2 linked regions of the Homo sapiens genome follow. The protein of the gene in region 1 interacts with the protein of each later gene in a pairwise test. Each region holds a gene or a part of one and is shown in the gene's direction. Other genes may lie near its edges.

Evidence for each region. Proteins that work in one complex are often made in the same cells at the same time.
Region 2: the proteins of NECAB2 (region 1) and CAGE1 interact in binary tests that used the Homo sapiens proteins (3 or more experiments, as listed by UniProt).

The regions. Positions count from the first base shown.
Region 1 is NC_000016.10:83,978,244-83,986,826, forward strand, and holds part of NECAB2 (N-terminal EF-hand calcium-binding protein 2), read left to right. Parts: intron 1-200; coding exon 201-309; intron 310-2,595; coding exon 2,596-2,621; intron 2,622-2,786; coding exon 2,787-2,884; intron 2,885-8,583. UniProt on the Homo sapiens protein: May act as a signaling scaffold protein that senses intracellular calcium.
Region 2 is NC_000006.12:7,372,743-7,380,534, reverse strand, and holds part of CAGE1 (cancer-associated gene 1 protein), read left to right. Parts: intron 1-1,514; coding exon 1,515-1,918; intron 1,919-6,403; coding exon 6,404-7,462; intron 7,463-7,792.

The DNA.
Region 1 (8,583 bases):
GAATTAGCTGGGTGGGTAGGGATTATCTAAAATGGAATTTGTCTTTTAGTTTGGGGATTAGCTGGGAGGGTAGGGATTATCTGAGCTGCAGTTGTTCTGTCAGTCAGGCCATTGACTGGATTTGGGGGCCGTGCATGCACTAGCCCCACCAGCCTTATCTCTGCAGACACCAGCTCCTTTCTCTGCTTCCTTCCTTGCAGATGATGGGAAGCTGTCCTTGGAGGAATTCCAGCTCTTCTTTGCAGATGGCGTCCTTAATGAGAAAGAACTGGAGGATCTCTTTCACACGATTGACTCTGACAACACCAAGTGAGCTTCAGTCCTGGCTGGCAGAGTGGGGGTGTGTGTGGGCTGTGGTGGAGGCATCTTTTCATCTAGTGTCCGTTCCTAGTCCCCTGTAAGGGGCAGGAGAACTGAAAATCCCCAAATTTGCTAATCCAGAAGTCAGCTCTTCACTGCCTGGGGTGAATGGGGCGTGTGCAGATTCATATTGCATTGGCTACTATCGCAAGTGTGTCTTCTGAGTGCACATGGCCAACTAAGGAGAGACTCCTGGTTTTGCACAGTGGACATGGGATTATGAAAATGGGAAGGTGGCAATGACTTCATCCTTCTGCCATCTTCAGCCAGCAGCCAGTTCTCACCCCAACCCCAATGCCTGTGTGTCCTCCCAGTCCCAACATTAACTGTGAGGTTGAACGTCATCCTAACACTGACTCCTGTGTTAAACCAAACACGAATCCTAACTCAACACTACGTCTATCATTATAGCTTATTAAACCTTTTCTCCAACCCAGTCATAACCCTGACCTGCATCTCAGAATCAGCCAAAAACTCTGTCTCCACCCATCTCTAAATCAAGTGGAAAATGCAGATTCTACTCAGACTTACCCTTGACCCTTCCCAGCCTCACCTCCAATCTTGCCCTTTTCTTGGGATTCCCCAGACAGGATGAGGTCTGAGCCCTCTCCTCAACCCCACCTTCAGGAGGGATCAGAGCCCCACCTGGTCTCCTTTCTCAGGCCTACTCGCGTGATGAGGACCCAAGCTTCTGGAGGGCTGCTTAGGGCACATTTGGTAAGCGGAGGTTCTCTGAGACTGACTAGAGATGGTCTGGACAAGGAGCTACCACCAAACCAGTGTGCAAGGGGTAGAGTACAGTGGTGGTTTGGACCAGAGGCTGCGGCTGAGAGAGTCCTGGGGGGCACTGGCTGGGGACCGGGATATGGTAAGTGGAGCAGATACCATCCTCTGGGAAAGGCCACTTTAAAGAAATGGCTTCAGGCTCCAGACTGCAGAATGGAGAACTGTCTGGGGCCAGATGGAGATTTCTGAGCTGTTACTGCAGCTTCCTGGGGTGCTTTGAAGGGGCCAGGCAGGTGCCCATTGATTTAGACCTTCTCTTTCAGGGCCTTTTGTGTTAGGACCAGCGGGGTAGAGGAGGGGGTGGAGGCGGAGGGAGGAGGAGGCACTGGTTTGAGAGTCGAACTGTGAGAGTACGTGTGGGTGGGTGGGGGTGCAGGGAGGACTCGCGGTTATGGAAGGTCAAAGCTCTATAAAGACTTTTAGGATTAATCTCCCCAACATTACCTAAGGTGTGAGCCACGAACATTAGCCCCTTGGGATGCTAAATAGACTTTGTGCCCAAAACAGTGTACAAACCATCAAAAAGTTTTGTGAAACATGAATTAAAGCAGAATGACAGGGTCGCTTTCTGCAGGACTTGCCAGAACTCTGAATATGAGATGGAGGTTGGAGGCACCTCCTGACAGAGCATGCAGAGCCCCCGAGTGCAGATTCACTGGGCCACAGAAGCCTTCTGTCCAGATGTGCTTTGCTGAGCCTGGGCTCCACTGAGCACGATGAGGGACCTAGGCCCAGAAAGGGCCACCACCGTATTGGGTCCCTTGCACATTGACTTGGCAGTAGCTCCTTATCCAGACCATCTCTAGCCAGTCCCAGAGGGCCTCAGCTTATCAAATCTGCTCCTAAGCTGCAGAACCACCATAGTTCCCAGCACTGCACCCCTTATCTTGGGGCCGGTCTGTGCTCCTTCACTGCCATGGGGGATAGGCTCATGCTCAGCCTGCTCCCCCAAGAAAGGACAGGACCCTTCTCCAGGCTGTAGGAATGGGGATATGGGACCCAGGGGCTGCGACCAGAACAGGAAGGGCTCTGCCACAACCCCAGGAACTCCAGGACCCAGCAGGCAGGGTCGACTGGGGGTGGGTCAGTGGGTCAGATGAGAGCTTTGCTGACAGCCCGTCACAGTAATGGGTCCCCACTCTCTGTCCCTTTACCCCTTTCCTGGCCCCCAGCTTGGCCCTCCCCTTGGTGTCATTTATTCATGATGGGGTCAGCAGACTCCGAGAAAACAGAACAAGGGTGGGTGGTGTGGGGGATCAGACAGACGTGGGCCTTCAGGGGCGGGGGTGTCACCTACCTGCTGCACCCTCTTCTGTAAGGCGGAGCTTGTGGGGCCAGCACACAGGCTGCAAAGAGCAGGCAGGATGTGTGTTTCGCAGGCTGTGCAGGGTCAGGCCTGCTAACCCCCTCTCTGTCTCTGTCTGTCTCTGCCTCTGTCTGTCTCTGCAGCCATGTGGACACCAAGGAGCTGTGTGGTAGGTGCCTGGCTATGCTGGGACCAAGATGGGGATGCTGGGATGGGGCTGGATGAGAAGGGCCTGAGGCAGGGGAGGCTGGAGGTAGCGCAGGTGGGAGGTGCAGGAGTGCTGAGTGGGAGGGGCAGGACCTGTGACCCCTGACCTTTGCCTTTCCTTCCCCAGATTACTTTGTGGACCACATGGGTGACTATGAGGATGTCCTGGCCTCCCTGGAGACCTTGAATCACTCTGTCCTGAAGGCCATGGGTTATACCAAGAAGGTCAGTGGGTGTAGGTGGCCCCCGGGGTCCAGGGCTCCAGTGCTGCTTCAGTTCCACCCTTGCCTAAGGATGCCTGGATTTTTGAAGACAGGCCGCCAGGGAGGCCTATCTCAGGGGTGGGCTTTGCCTGGGCCTCTTTGAAGCAGCTGAGATGAACTGGGAAGGGAATAGAATGGTTTGGTGAATGGCTCTGGTTGGGAGCAGGAGGCATTTTCCCGGAATCAGGCCTGATCCTGGGCTGGGGCCTTAGAAAGGGTGGCCGCAATCACCCTGTGCCCTTAAGGGGTCCCCAGACAGGTGTCGTACCCTTCAGGGTGGGCTTACAAGACTGGAAGAGGGGGCGGGGTGGGGCGTGGTGGGGGGTGGTGGTTCATGCATCTGAACCCTGTCCCATATCAGGTTCTCGATGCTCAGCACCTGGTTTAATCCTCACAGCAACCCTATGGGTGGTTGCTGTCACCTCCACTATCTCACAGCTATGGAAACAGAGGCTCACAAAGGTGAACTCAACAGAGTCACAGCCAGACAGCCATAGCTGCTGGCTGGGATGAGTGGGGAAACTGAGTCAGGGACCTGGCAATAGGCATGGGAGTGTAGCATGAGACTCCAGGCACACCCAGGAGGCAACTGGAGAGTCAGTCATCCAGGAGCAGAGAGCAGCCATAGGGCACACTGGTCCAGGCCCACGGTGAGGGAACTGGGAGCATGCAAGGGTGAGGGACCCACAGGTGCTCGAGGCAGCAGCCACCAGCACCCTGAGCTTTGGGAGTCCAGAAAAGCCCAGCCTTGTCTGCCGGTTGAGGCCGGGGAACTTAGCTGATAAAGCCAGCCAGACCTGGCTGAGGGATCTGAGCTGGTTATTTCCCTTTCTGAGCCTCAGTTTTTCCATCTGTGAAATGGAGACATCCACCTTATGAATTACGAAGTCCTTCAGAGATTGAGCCAAGTAAGGCCTCTGAGCTATTGAGCATGCAGGACCAAGCTCGGAGCAAAGGCACCTGCTGGTTTGTATCAATACGCTCCTACTGTACGCTCAGCCAGATATTAAAACCCATTCTGTGCAATTTTCCCATGCTTCTCAGTTAGTGACCGCCATGTATTAGACAGTCTCTGTTTTGCCATATATCTAACAATAGTTGGGCCTCATTCTGGGCCTCCACGATTCCACATTTCCATTTCTGTCCCAGTATCATGCTGTTTTGAGTCTTGCTGTTTTAGAGTATATTTTAATACCATGTAAGACCTGCTCCCTTCAAGTATTAATCTTTGTAGAATATCGTTTGATATCCCCAAGTATCAAGGTATAGGCGGTGGATTAGAAGGTAGCATGGGAAGATCCCAGGCTTCCGAGTCACCCAGACAAGGGTGGCAATGCCAGCTCTGCTCCAAACAGGCTGTGTGAGGTCACCATGTGCTCACAGATGACCCTGGGAAATGGAAACCACCTCCTTGAGCCTCGGTTTTCTCACCTTAGAAGGGGCCCACGTCCTAGCCATGCTGTGAGGCATTCGTAACATCCATGGTTGCGTCTTGGTCTTCAGTCAGACTTTTCAGGAACATAAGAGAGTTCTCCATCAGTGTCTACTGATACAAGTTAGACCGGTTTTAGAGATCTTGCTCTTGGAAGTCATGTGCGTATGATGTCAGGGGTGGTCTTTGGTGGTTTTTTTGTGGCAGTCGTGGTGATGATAGGTTGTTGCATCCGTGATTGGCATTTCCTTTTTTTTTGTTTTCTTTTTCTTTTTCTTTTTCTTTTTTTTTGAGACAGAGTCTCACTCTTGTCCAGGCTGGAGTGCAGTGATACAATGTCGCCTCACTGCAACCTCTGCCTCCTGGGTTTGAGTGATTCTCCTGCCTCAGCCTCCCGAGTAGCTGGGACTACAGGCGCCCACCACCACTCCTGGGTAATTTTTGTAGTTTTAGTAGAGACGGGGTTTCACCATGTTGGCCAGGCTGGTCTCAAAGTCCTGACTTGAGGTGATCCGCCCACCTCGGCCTCCCAAAGTGCTGGGATTACAGGTGTGATGTGATTGGCATTTCTTTTGCTTGCGTATTTCCTAAGTGGTTTTTGTTTGTAGAAATGCAGCTTGTCGGTTGTTGTTTTGAATGCTTTTCTTGTATGTGCTGTTTGCTTTCGTCAAGCCGCAGCATCAGTTATTAAGAGTGCCGTTGTCTCTGCATTCTAACACGTGCCCCTCTTGCTTCCCTGTCTATCCTGTGGCATTTCTCTCATGTTCTAAAACGTCGTGGTGGGGCACGGCCAGGCATGCTTGTTTGGCTCCTGATTTTCGAGTGCATCTCTAGTACTTCTCTGCTGATTATCATATTAATACCAGCTCTTATTTTAGAATCCTTGTCAGCATGTTGGAGAAATATTTTTGCATTCCCTTTTTTCCATTTTGTCTTAGGAGGGTGGTGGTGAATTTTTTCAAATGCCTTTTGGTATTTTTAAATGATCATATGATTTTTTTCCCCTAAGCTATTGATGGGGTGGATGCTATTTTTAGATTGTCTCAAATTGAACAATCCTTCGCTCCCTGTGATAAACCCTAATTGGTATATTATTCTTTTATCACATTACTGAGTCCTTGTCATGAGCCAAGAATTTTATCTCTGTCTCCATTGGGAGTGGAGATCGGATGATAGCTTGGGAATGATTTTGTGAAGTGGTTTTGAATGTGTTCTGTGTATGAATCAGCTTCTCTAACATAGCATCATTTTTCTACGTAAAAATAGAATTTATCCATAACGCTTGGGTCTCAGTGTTAAACAGGGGAGGGGATGATTTTCATAGTTATTTTAAGGTCATCTCTACTTTTAGTCAACTTTTTCACTTGTCCATTGTAAAATACATATATATATATGGTGGTTTTTTTTTTTTTTTTTTTGACGGAGTCTCGCTCTGTCATCCAGGCTGGAGTGCAGTGGCACAGTCCCAGCTCACTGCCAGCTCCGCCTCCCGGGTTCACGCCATTCTCCTGCTTCAGCCTCCCGAGTAGCTGGGACTACAGGCGCCCGCTACTACGCCTGGCTAATTTTTTGTATTTTTAGTAGAGACGGGGTTTCATCGTGTTAGCCAGGATGGTCTCCATCTCCTGACCTCGTGATCTGTCCTCCTCGGCCTCCCAAAGTGCTGGGATTACAGGCGTGAGCCACCGCGCCCGGCGGAATATTTTTAAACAAAACTGCCCTGGGCATAGTCGTTTTTACAATCAGTCATGCATGGAATGTTTTATGATTATTTTTAAAAATCTAAAACATTGTTTGACACACGCAGGCACTTAATGCACATTAAGTTCAATAAAAGATCTGCTGCCGCTCACGGTGGCTCACGCCTGTAATTCCAGCACTTTGGGAGGCCGAGGCGGGAGGATCGCTTGAGCCCAGAAGTTCAAGACCACCCTGGGCAACATAGTGGGACCCCGTTTCTACCAAAAACAAAACAAAACAAAATTAGCCGAGCATGGTGGGATGTGTCTGTAGTTCCCACCTTCTTGGGAGGCTGAGGTGAGAGGATCTCTGGAGCCTGGGAAGTCGAGGCTGCAGTGAGGCACAGCATGCCGCTGCAACCCAACCTGGGTGACAAGAGAAACCCTGTCTCTCAAAAATAAAAAAATAAAATGTGCTGCTGTAGCTCACATCTTAAGTTTCTCCCATTTTTCTACATTTTAAAACCTTGTATTTGACAGTTTTGCCTGTTTTAATTAGCTGTTTCAAATAACAAGCTCCTGGCACATTTATTTAAATTTCATGACATGTTTTCTTATTTATTTATAGCTCCTATCATTATTATTTCCTCCCTCTTATAACTTTAGGTTTGTTGTTTTTGCTGTTCTTTTTCATATGTGAAATGGAATGGTTTTTTTGATAATGTTGACATTTTTAAAATTTACTTTTGATGGGGGCTGGGTGCAGTGGCTCACGCCTGTTATCCCAGTACTTTGGGAGGCCGGGGCGGGCAGATCACCTGAGGTCAGGAGTTTGAGACCAGCGTGGCCAACATGGTGAAACCCTGTCTGTACTAAAAATACAAAAATTAGCCGAGCGTGGTGGCAGGCGCCTGTAATCCCAGCTACTTGGGAGGCTGAGGCAGGAGAATCACTTGAACCCGGGAGGTGGAGGTTGCAGTGAGTAGAGACTGCGCCATTGCACTCCAGCCTGGACAACAAGAGCAAATCTCTGTCTCAAAAAAAAAAAAAAAAAAAAAAAAAAAAAAAAAGGTTACTGCTGGGTGCGGTGGCTCACACCTGTAATCCCAGCACTTTGGGAGGCCGAGGCAGATAGATCACAAGGTCAGGAATTCAAGACAAGCCTGGCCAACATGGTGAAACCCCGTCTCTACTAAAAATACAAAAATTAGCTGGGCGTGGTGGCAGTTGTGTGTAATCCCAGCTACTTGGGAGAGTGAGGCAGGAGAATGACTTGAACCCGGGAGGTGGAGGTTGCAGTGAGCCGAGACTGCCCCACTGCACTCCAGCCTGGGCAACAAGAGTGAGTCTCCATCTCAGAAAAAAAAAAAAAAATTACTGTTGGCGTTCCCATAGCAATCACAGATGTTAATGTGTAGTATTTTCAACCTATTATTTGAGCAGCCTGTTATGTTCTCATTTATTTTTCAGTTCATTGTATTAAGATAAAATTGAATGACCAGAAAGGTTTCTACTCTATTTTTTTAATGTACTGAGATTTTTCCATTACATTTGTGTTTGTTTTTGTAACTACCTCATGAATGCTTAAGACGATGTGGATTGTGCTTGCAGAATTAGCAGATCTGAAAACAGCTATCCTTTCTTCGTTATGAAATACGTGCTGCTAAGAGGTACTTTTTTAAAGGTAAAATTATGTCTCTTCTGCAGGTATTAAAATACACATCAAATATTTTTTCTTGTTTCTTTTTTTCTTTTTTGATACGGAGTTTCTCTTTCGTTGCCCAGGCCAGAGTACAATGGAGTGATCTCAGCTCAGTGCAACCTCTGCTTCCTGGGTTAAAGCGATTCTTCCACCTCAGCCTCCCGAGTAGCTGGGATTACAGGCGTGCACCACCACGCCCGGCTAATTTTTGTGTTTCTAGTAGAGACGGGTTTTCACCCTGTTGGCCAGGCTGGTCTTGAACTCCTGACGTCAGGTGTTCCACCCGCCTCAGTCTCCCAAAGTGCTGGGAGTACAGGCATGAGCCACTGCGCCCAGCCCAAAGATTTTCTCTAACTCAATATGAGAATCAGTAAGATACTGGAACTGGCTCAAAGGAGAATTGAAAGAACTTGTGCACTAATACATAGGTAAATAGCAATTCCGAAATCAGTTGGTGAATAAATGCATGAATGGTCACTATCCCAGGGCAACAACCAATTGCCCTGTGGAGAGTGCCAGACAAACTTCCTGTGCATTTCTGTATAAGAGATAAAGACGGGGTCTTGTTGTGTTGCCCAGGCTGGAGTACAGTGGCACAGTCATTACTCATTGCAGCCTCAACCTCCCAGACCCAAGTGATCTTCCCACTTTAGCCTTCCAAGTAGCTGGGAACACAGGTGGGTGCCACCACTCACGGCAAATTTTTTTTTTTTTTTTTTTTGGTAGAGACAGGGTTTCCCTATTTTGCTTAGACTAGTCTCAAACTCCTGGGCTGAAGCAATCATCTCCCCACCTTGGCTTGTCCAAGTGCTGGGATTACAGGCATAAGCCACCATGGCCAGCCAGAA
Region 2 (7,792 bases), on another chromosome or scaffold:
CTCCTGAGTAGCTGGGATTACAGATGTGCACCACCACGCCCCACTAAGTTTTGTATTTTTAGTAGATACGGGGTTTCACCATGTTGACCAGGCTGGTCTCGAATTCCTGACCTCAGGTGATCCACCCACCTCAGCCTCCCAAAGTGCTAGGATTACAGGCGTAAACCACTGCGTCCAAGACTTTTATATGGCTATAGATAGAGTGAGATGCTATTTATGTAAAATATAAAAGCACATAAAACAATACTATATATTAATCACTCACCTAAAGTGTTGCAGGGTATTTTGGAGTTTGAGGGAAACAGTGACACTGGACATCTATCAGACCCCCACAATCTGTTAGCTGTAGTTTTCACTATAAACCCATACTATAGTCCTTCCTATGATGTCTTATTTGTAAAGGTAGGTTTTTGGAGGTTGCTATAATAAAAAGCAAGTCCCGTATGAAAATCATTGTGGAATAGGAAGTGAGAGTGGTGGTCTCCAATCTGATTCCACGATTTGAGGTGCTGTACGGTGCCTAACAGTGTACATCCAAGTAGTAAAGTGTGGTTGTTTAAGAATAAAATATTATATTTTTCTTTTAGTTTATGTGTATTTTCAAACAGCTAATAACTTAGGACAAATACTAGTTTGAACTTAATTATTTACTAAATGGAACTTAAGTATTCCTTTTGGTCCAGAGGTACTGTGAAAAAAAGTACTGAGACATTAAGGGTGTCACAAAATGAGGAAATCTGGGAACTTTATTCTTTGGCAAGATTATGTTGATTTTATTATTTAGGATACATAAATCAGTAGTAAAAGTAAAATGGGAATGGGAAGAATGAATACATATGGGCTTCAGTACACTGGTTATCTCTGGGGAGGAGGAAAGTTAGATAAAAGGGATCAATAATTTGTAACATTCTGTTTTCTTATTTGCTCCTGATTTTAAAAAACATTACATCTGCATAATTTGTCATATTGAAAAATAGTATAGCATAGCATTTAGAAGTAGTAGTCTAGAATCTCAGCAGCACTGCTTAGCAGCTCTGTGACTTTGGACAAGTGACTTTAACATCTCTTACACTTCAGTTTCCTTATCTGTAAAATAGGGATAATAACAGTACTGACATCATGGGATTTTTGTGAGATTAAGCAAGTTTATATGTGTTTTCTATTATACTATCCTTGTCCTTTTGAAACATTGTATAATTTAAAACATCTTAAAATTACAGTACAACAAAAGAATTTTGAAGATCTCTTGAAATTTATTGTAATTTTATTTGACCAGAATTACATATAACACACTTTTTCCTAGCAGTCATTTGGGGACTTCTTTCCCCCATGTAAAAAGTTTTGTTTTGTTTGCTAGCACAAAACCATGCTAAAATTCACACAGTAAATAAGGTTGAAATAATATATAATTTTTAAGTGGCTACAGCAGTTTATTTGATAAATATAAATATAACTGTTACCATCCAAGTTCATGGTCTACTCGTTTTTATTTCCTTCTTTCTCTTTCTTATGAGATAACAACATTGAAAATTACTCAACGAATGCACTAATTCAGCCAGTTGACACCATCAGCATATCTTCCTTGAGACAATTTGAAACCGTTTGCAAATTTCACTGGGTAGAAGCATTTGATGATGAAATGACAGAGAAGCCAGAATTTCAAAGTCAAGTGTATAATTATGCAAAAGACAACAATATAAAGCAAGACTCATTTAAGGAAGAAAATCCAATGGAAACTAGTGTTTCTGCAAATACAGACCAACTTGGTAACGAGTATTTTAGACAGCCTCCTCCTAGAAGCCCGCCTCTAATCCACTGCAGTGGAGAGATGCTGAAATTTACAGAAAAGTCACTGGCTAAAAGTATTGCCAAGGAATCTGCCCTCAACCCTAGCCAACCTCCAAGCTTCTTATGTAAGGAAAGTGTACACAATAATATTGTAAAACCATTTGATAAAGAGAATAGTTCTAACCTAGTTCATCTGAGAGTTAATTATAAAGCAGAGGAGGTACGATTGTGATGGTCAGTAAAGCCTGTGGAGTATTAAAGGATGCATTTTAAAAATTGTATATATATATATATAATCTGAGACTTTTCCAAGTAGTGTTAAATCACCTAGTTAGCATGAGGGACTTTGCTTCTCTGGGGAAAATGCATTCTGAGATCTTAGCCAATTCAGAAATAAATTTTTCTAGTAAAATCAAGTCCATACTTGAGGATTAGCTCTACCAAATGGTAATTTCTCTAAGGATCAGGACTGTCTTACTCACCCTCTTATGCACCACAGCGTCTATATGTTTCCTTGAATATAATAAGCTTTTTTTACCATAATTTTTTTTCACCACAAACAAGTTTATTAGAGAAGTAAAGAAACAAAAGAATGGCTACTGTGTAGACAGAGCAGTCTGAATATAATAAGCTTTTATATTTGTTGAATCAAAATGGCTGGAAGTAGCAGAGTTTACACTGATGGAAAGGTCAAGAAGAGGAAGGAGTGCAGAGGCACTAATTCATTTTTCAAGAAAAACAAGATTTCTCTGTCATATTGGAATTCTACTGACAAGCAAAAAATACTACTTTTTCTACTAAAGTGAAAATATTAGTTTATCATTTGGTTTATTGATTCCGAGCACACATGTAGTATCCTAAGAGCACTGAAGATACCGACAGTATATATTCTGTGTACTTTCTGAACAAAAAAATTAAAAATACTAGGAATTGGTATGGGAAAATAGATAAAATTCAAGAATAGTATAAGTAATACCTTTTCTCTTTTTTTGTTGTTTTGTTTTGTTTTTGATACGGAGTCTCACTCTGTTGCCCAGGCTGGAGTGCAGTGGCATGATCTTGGCTCACCGCAACCCCTGCTTCCTGGATTCAAGCGATTGTCCTGCTGCAGCCTTCTGAGTAGCTAGGATTATAAGCGTGTGCCACCACACCTGGCTAATTTTTTTTTGTATTTTTAGTAGAGACGGGTTTTCACCATGTTGGCCAGGCTGGTCTTGAACTGCCGATCCACCCGCCTTGGCCTCCCAAAGTGCTGGGATTACAGGTGTGAGCTACCACACCTGGCCAATAATACCTTTCCAATGTGAGTTTGATGGGAAACACTATGACTATAATGTCTTATTTACAAGTATGAGCATTTTCATTTTTTTGAAAGTAGATGACAGCATTTAAAAGGACTTTATTTGTCCAAGTTGATTTCTGGAAAACAACCTTTTAAAAATCAGCTTAAATAGGGTTTCGCAAGATTGTTCTTTCCTCTTTTCATTGCATTTAGCCATTTTTCATTCAGTCAATAGATACTTTTAGGCATCTATTACATGGCAGGTCTGTACTACACATTAGGTGATGGTTAGAAAATAGACAAAAAGATGTAGTTCTTGTCCTCATGAAGACAGCATCCTACTAGAGGAGGTAGTCATTAATCAATCACACAAATAAATGTGAACTTGCAACTATAATAAGATCAATAAGGTGAATAAAGTTACATATAAAGTATATGTAGAGCATGTTATATAAAGTTACTATTTATGCTATGATGCTATATCAAGTTACAGATAAACTTGCAACTATGATAAGTGCTGCATATGTAAGTAGGTTGGGCATCTATGATAAGGACACTACCCTGATCAGGGAGTCTGGGGAAGGCATCCCTGAAGAAATGATCATTGAGCTGAGCTCTAAAGGATGGGTAGAAGTTAATTAGGCAGCCATGGGTAGGAGAGCCTTCCATACAGAAGGAAGAACGTCTGCAAACCCTGTGGCCACAGGAAGCATGGTACCTACTAGGACCTGAAGGAAGCCCTGAGTCCAGGAAGATCAGAGTTGGAGGAAGGAGGAGGGGTACAGCAGATGAAGACAGAGAGGTGGTGTGGGTCAGATACTGCTTTAGTTCATTTCATCTTGCTGCAACTATATCACAGACTGGGCAATTTATAATGAATAACAATTTATCTGGCTCACGGTTCTGGAGGCTAGGTCCATGGTGCCAGCATCACTCGAGGGTCTCTGTGCTGTCATTTCATGGTGGGAGGTGGAGGGGCAAAAGAAGGTGAGATCGAGGGAGCAAGTGGAGGCCAAACTAACTTTTATTTTATTTATTTATTTATTTATTTATTTATTTATTTATTTATTTATTTTGAGATGGAGTCTCGCTCTGTCGCCCAGGCTGCAGTGCAGTGGCACCATCTTGGCTCACTGCAACCTCCGCCTCCCGGGTTCAAGCAATTCTCCTGCTTCACCCTTCCCAGTAGCTGGGATTACAGGTGTGTGCCACCACGCCCAGCTAATTTTTTGTATTTTTAGTAGAGACAGGGTTTCACAGTGTTAGCCAGGATGGTCTCAATCTCCTGACGTTGCGATCCACCTGCCTCGGCTTCCCAAAGTGCTGGGATTACAGGTGTGAGCCACCACTCCCAGCCCCCAAACTCACTTTTGTAACAAATCCACTTGTGATAACTAACACACTCCTGTGATAACAACATTTAGTCATTTTTATTCACCTCTTACTAGGCCCCGTCTTCCAACACTGTTGCACTGGGGATTGGGGATCAAGCTTCCGGCACGTTAACTTTAGGGGATGCATTTAAAGCACAGCAGATATCAAGAGCAAGATATTAGGGCCTTGTAGGTCTCAGTAATGATAGTTATCTTTATCCCAGAACAATGAAAAACCATTAAGATACAAGGTTCTGCAGAAGGATGAGCTCAAAAAACAAAATACAGAAGTCCTTGTCTCTAAATTCCAGAGAATTATACAGCACACCACTACAGATACCTTTTACTGGGTTTTTACTTATTTATTTATTTTAGATACAAGGTGTCTTGCTCTGTTACTCAGATTGGAGAGCAGTGTGATCATGGCCCACAAGAAATCCTCCTGCCTCAGCTTCCCAAGGAGCTAGGACTACAGGCACATGCCACCACACCTGACTGATTTTTAAAATATTTTTTTTGAAGAGATAGGGTATCACTGTGTTACCCAAACTGGTCTCCAACTCCTGGTCTCAAGGAATCCTCTCACCTTGGGCTCCCAAAGTGTTGGGATTACAGGTATGAGCCACTGTGCCTGGCCTGGGTTTTGTTTTTGTTTTTTTTGTTTGTTTGTTTTTTGTTTTTTTGAGACAGAGTCTCGCTCTGTCGCCCAGGCTGGAGTGCAGTGGCGTGATCTCGGCTCACTGTAGCCTCCACCTCCAGGGTTCAAGCAATTCTCCTACCTCAGCCTCCCGAGTAGCTGGGACTACAGGTGCACACCGCCACGCGCAGCTAATTTTTGTATTTTTAGTAGAGATGGGGTTTCACCATGTTGGCCAGGATGGTCTTGATCTCCTGACCTCATGATCCACCCGCCTCAGCCTCCTGAAGTACTGGGATTACAAGCATGAGCCACTGCACCCGGCCCTGGGTTTTTAATGTCATATTCATTTCACCATTTCTTACCACAAATTACTGTCTTTTTTTATTTTTATTTGTTTATTTTATTATTATTATTTTTTGAGACAGAGTCTCGCTCTATCGCCCAGGCTGGAGTGCAGTAGTGTGATCTCAGCTCACTGCAACTTCCACCTCCTGCGTTCAAGTGATTCTGCTGCCTCACTCAGCTTCCCAAGTAGCTGGGATTATAAGCATGTGCTACCATGCCTGGCTAATTTTTGTATTTTGGGCAGAGATGGGGTTTTATCATGTTGGCCAGGCCGGTCTCAAACTCCTGACCTCAGGTGATCCACCCACCTCAGTCTCCCAAAGTGCTGGGATTACAGGCGTGAGCTACCTCGCCCGGCCTACTGTCTTTTTATAACCTCCTCGAGACCTCTATCGGCAGCATAAAGTCAATCATGAGGCATGTTCTTCTGCCATTCTAATGTTCCTGAGAGTCACAGAATAATGAGATAATGGTCTAAATGTGGAATAAAAAATATTCAAAAGAGAAGAGAACTTTCCCCCCTAAAAATCCAAACTTTTGGCCCAGTAATAACATGTAAAAAAAAAAAGAGAGAGAACTTGCAGTCTGTAAGGTAATTGATACATTTATTTGTCTGAATTTATTTGAAGTCAAAGCATCTTATATGTGTTCAGAGAAGTTTGCATAATAGAAAATGGTAAGAGGATGAAAGTTTAATTTTCCTTTTGTCAAAGTAAATGGGATGTATATCTGTCATATACCTACTGCCTGTGCCCTGCTGTGCTGTTAGGTGCTGTACAAACATTTAGCAATTAATACATAGGTATTAACTTTTGTTAATAGGCATTATTATTGGAAGTAGATACTATTGTTACTTTATAGCGGAGAAAGCCAAACAGGGGATCTACTAATAGAATTCAAGGCCAGCCCTATTTGACTTGAAAGCTCATTATCTTTCTACTCGTTCACACTTACTTTGTTTACTATAATTTACAGACTGCAGTTCCTTCAAAAGAAATACAGAATTATGGGGAGATTCCTGAGATGTCAGTCAGTTATGAAAAGGAAGTCACAGCAGAGGGTGTGGAGAGGCCAGAAATTGTCTCAACTTGGTCTTCGGCAGGCATTTCCTGGAGGAGTGAAGCATGTCGGGAGAACTGTGAGATGCCTGACTGGGAGCAAAGTGCTGAAAGCTTACAACCTGTTCAAGAGGACATGGCTTTAAATGAAGTCTTGCAGAAATTAAAACATACTAACAGAAAGCAGGAAGTGCGAATCCAAGAACTCCAGTGTAGTAACCTGTATTTAGAGAAGAGGGTTAAAGAACTACAGATGAAGATTACCAAACAGCAAGTGTTCATTGATGTCATCAATAAGCTAAAGGAGAATGTTGAAGAATTAATTGAAGACAAATACAAAATAATCCTAGAGAAGAATGATACTAAAAAGACATTGCAGAATTTGGAAGAGGTTTTAGCTAACACGCAAAAACATCTTCAGGAATCCAGGAATGACAAGGAAATGTTACAGCTTCAATTTAAGAAGATCAAGGCTAATTATGTGTGTTTACAGGAAAGGTACATGACTGAAATGCAACAAAAAAATAAATCTGTAAGTCAGTATTTAGAGATGGACAAAACCTTAAGCAAGAAAGAAGAAGAGGTAGAGAGACTACAACAACTCAAAAAAGAACTGGAAAAGGCCACAGCTTCTGCTTTGGACTTGTTGAAACGGGAAAAAGAGGCCCAAGAACAAGAGTTCTTGTCTTTACAGGAGGAATTCCAGAAACTTGAAAAGGAAAACCTGGAAGAAAGACAGAAACTGAAATCTAGACTTGAGAAATTGCTCACTCAAGTTAGAAATTTGCAATTTATGTCTGAAAATGAAAGAACGAAGAATATAAAACTTCAGCAGCAAATCAACGAAGTAAAAAATGAGAATGCAAAACTTAAACAGCAGGTTGCAAGGAGTGAAGAGCAAAATTATGTCCCTAAATTTGAGACAGCTCAGTTAAAGGATCAATTAGAGGAAGTCTTGAAGTCAGATATTACCAAGGTATTGATACACATTCTAAATCTCTAATGCGGAATTTCAAGAGTTTCTAGTGGTCTAGTGATGCGTATTTAGACGTGGCACTTATATTTGTTTGCAGAAAGAATTATTAAAGAAAGAAACAGATCTCGGCACTTTGGGAGGCTGAGGCAGGAGGATCTCTTGAGGCTAGGAGTTTGACACCAGCCTAGGCAACATAGTGAGACCCCATCTCTACAAAACATTTTTTAAAGCAGCCAATCTGTCATGCATGGTGGTGTGCGCCTATAGTCCTATCTATTCGGGAGGTTGAGATGGGGGAATTACTTGAGCTCAGGAGTTTGAAGCTGCAGT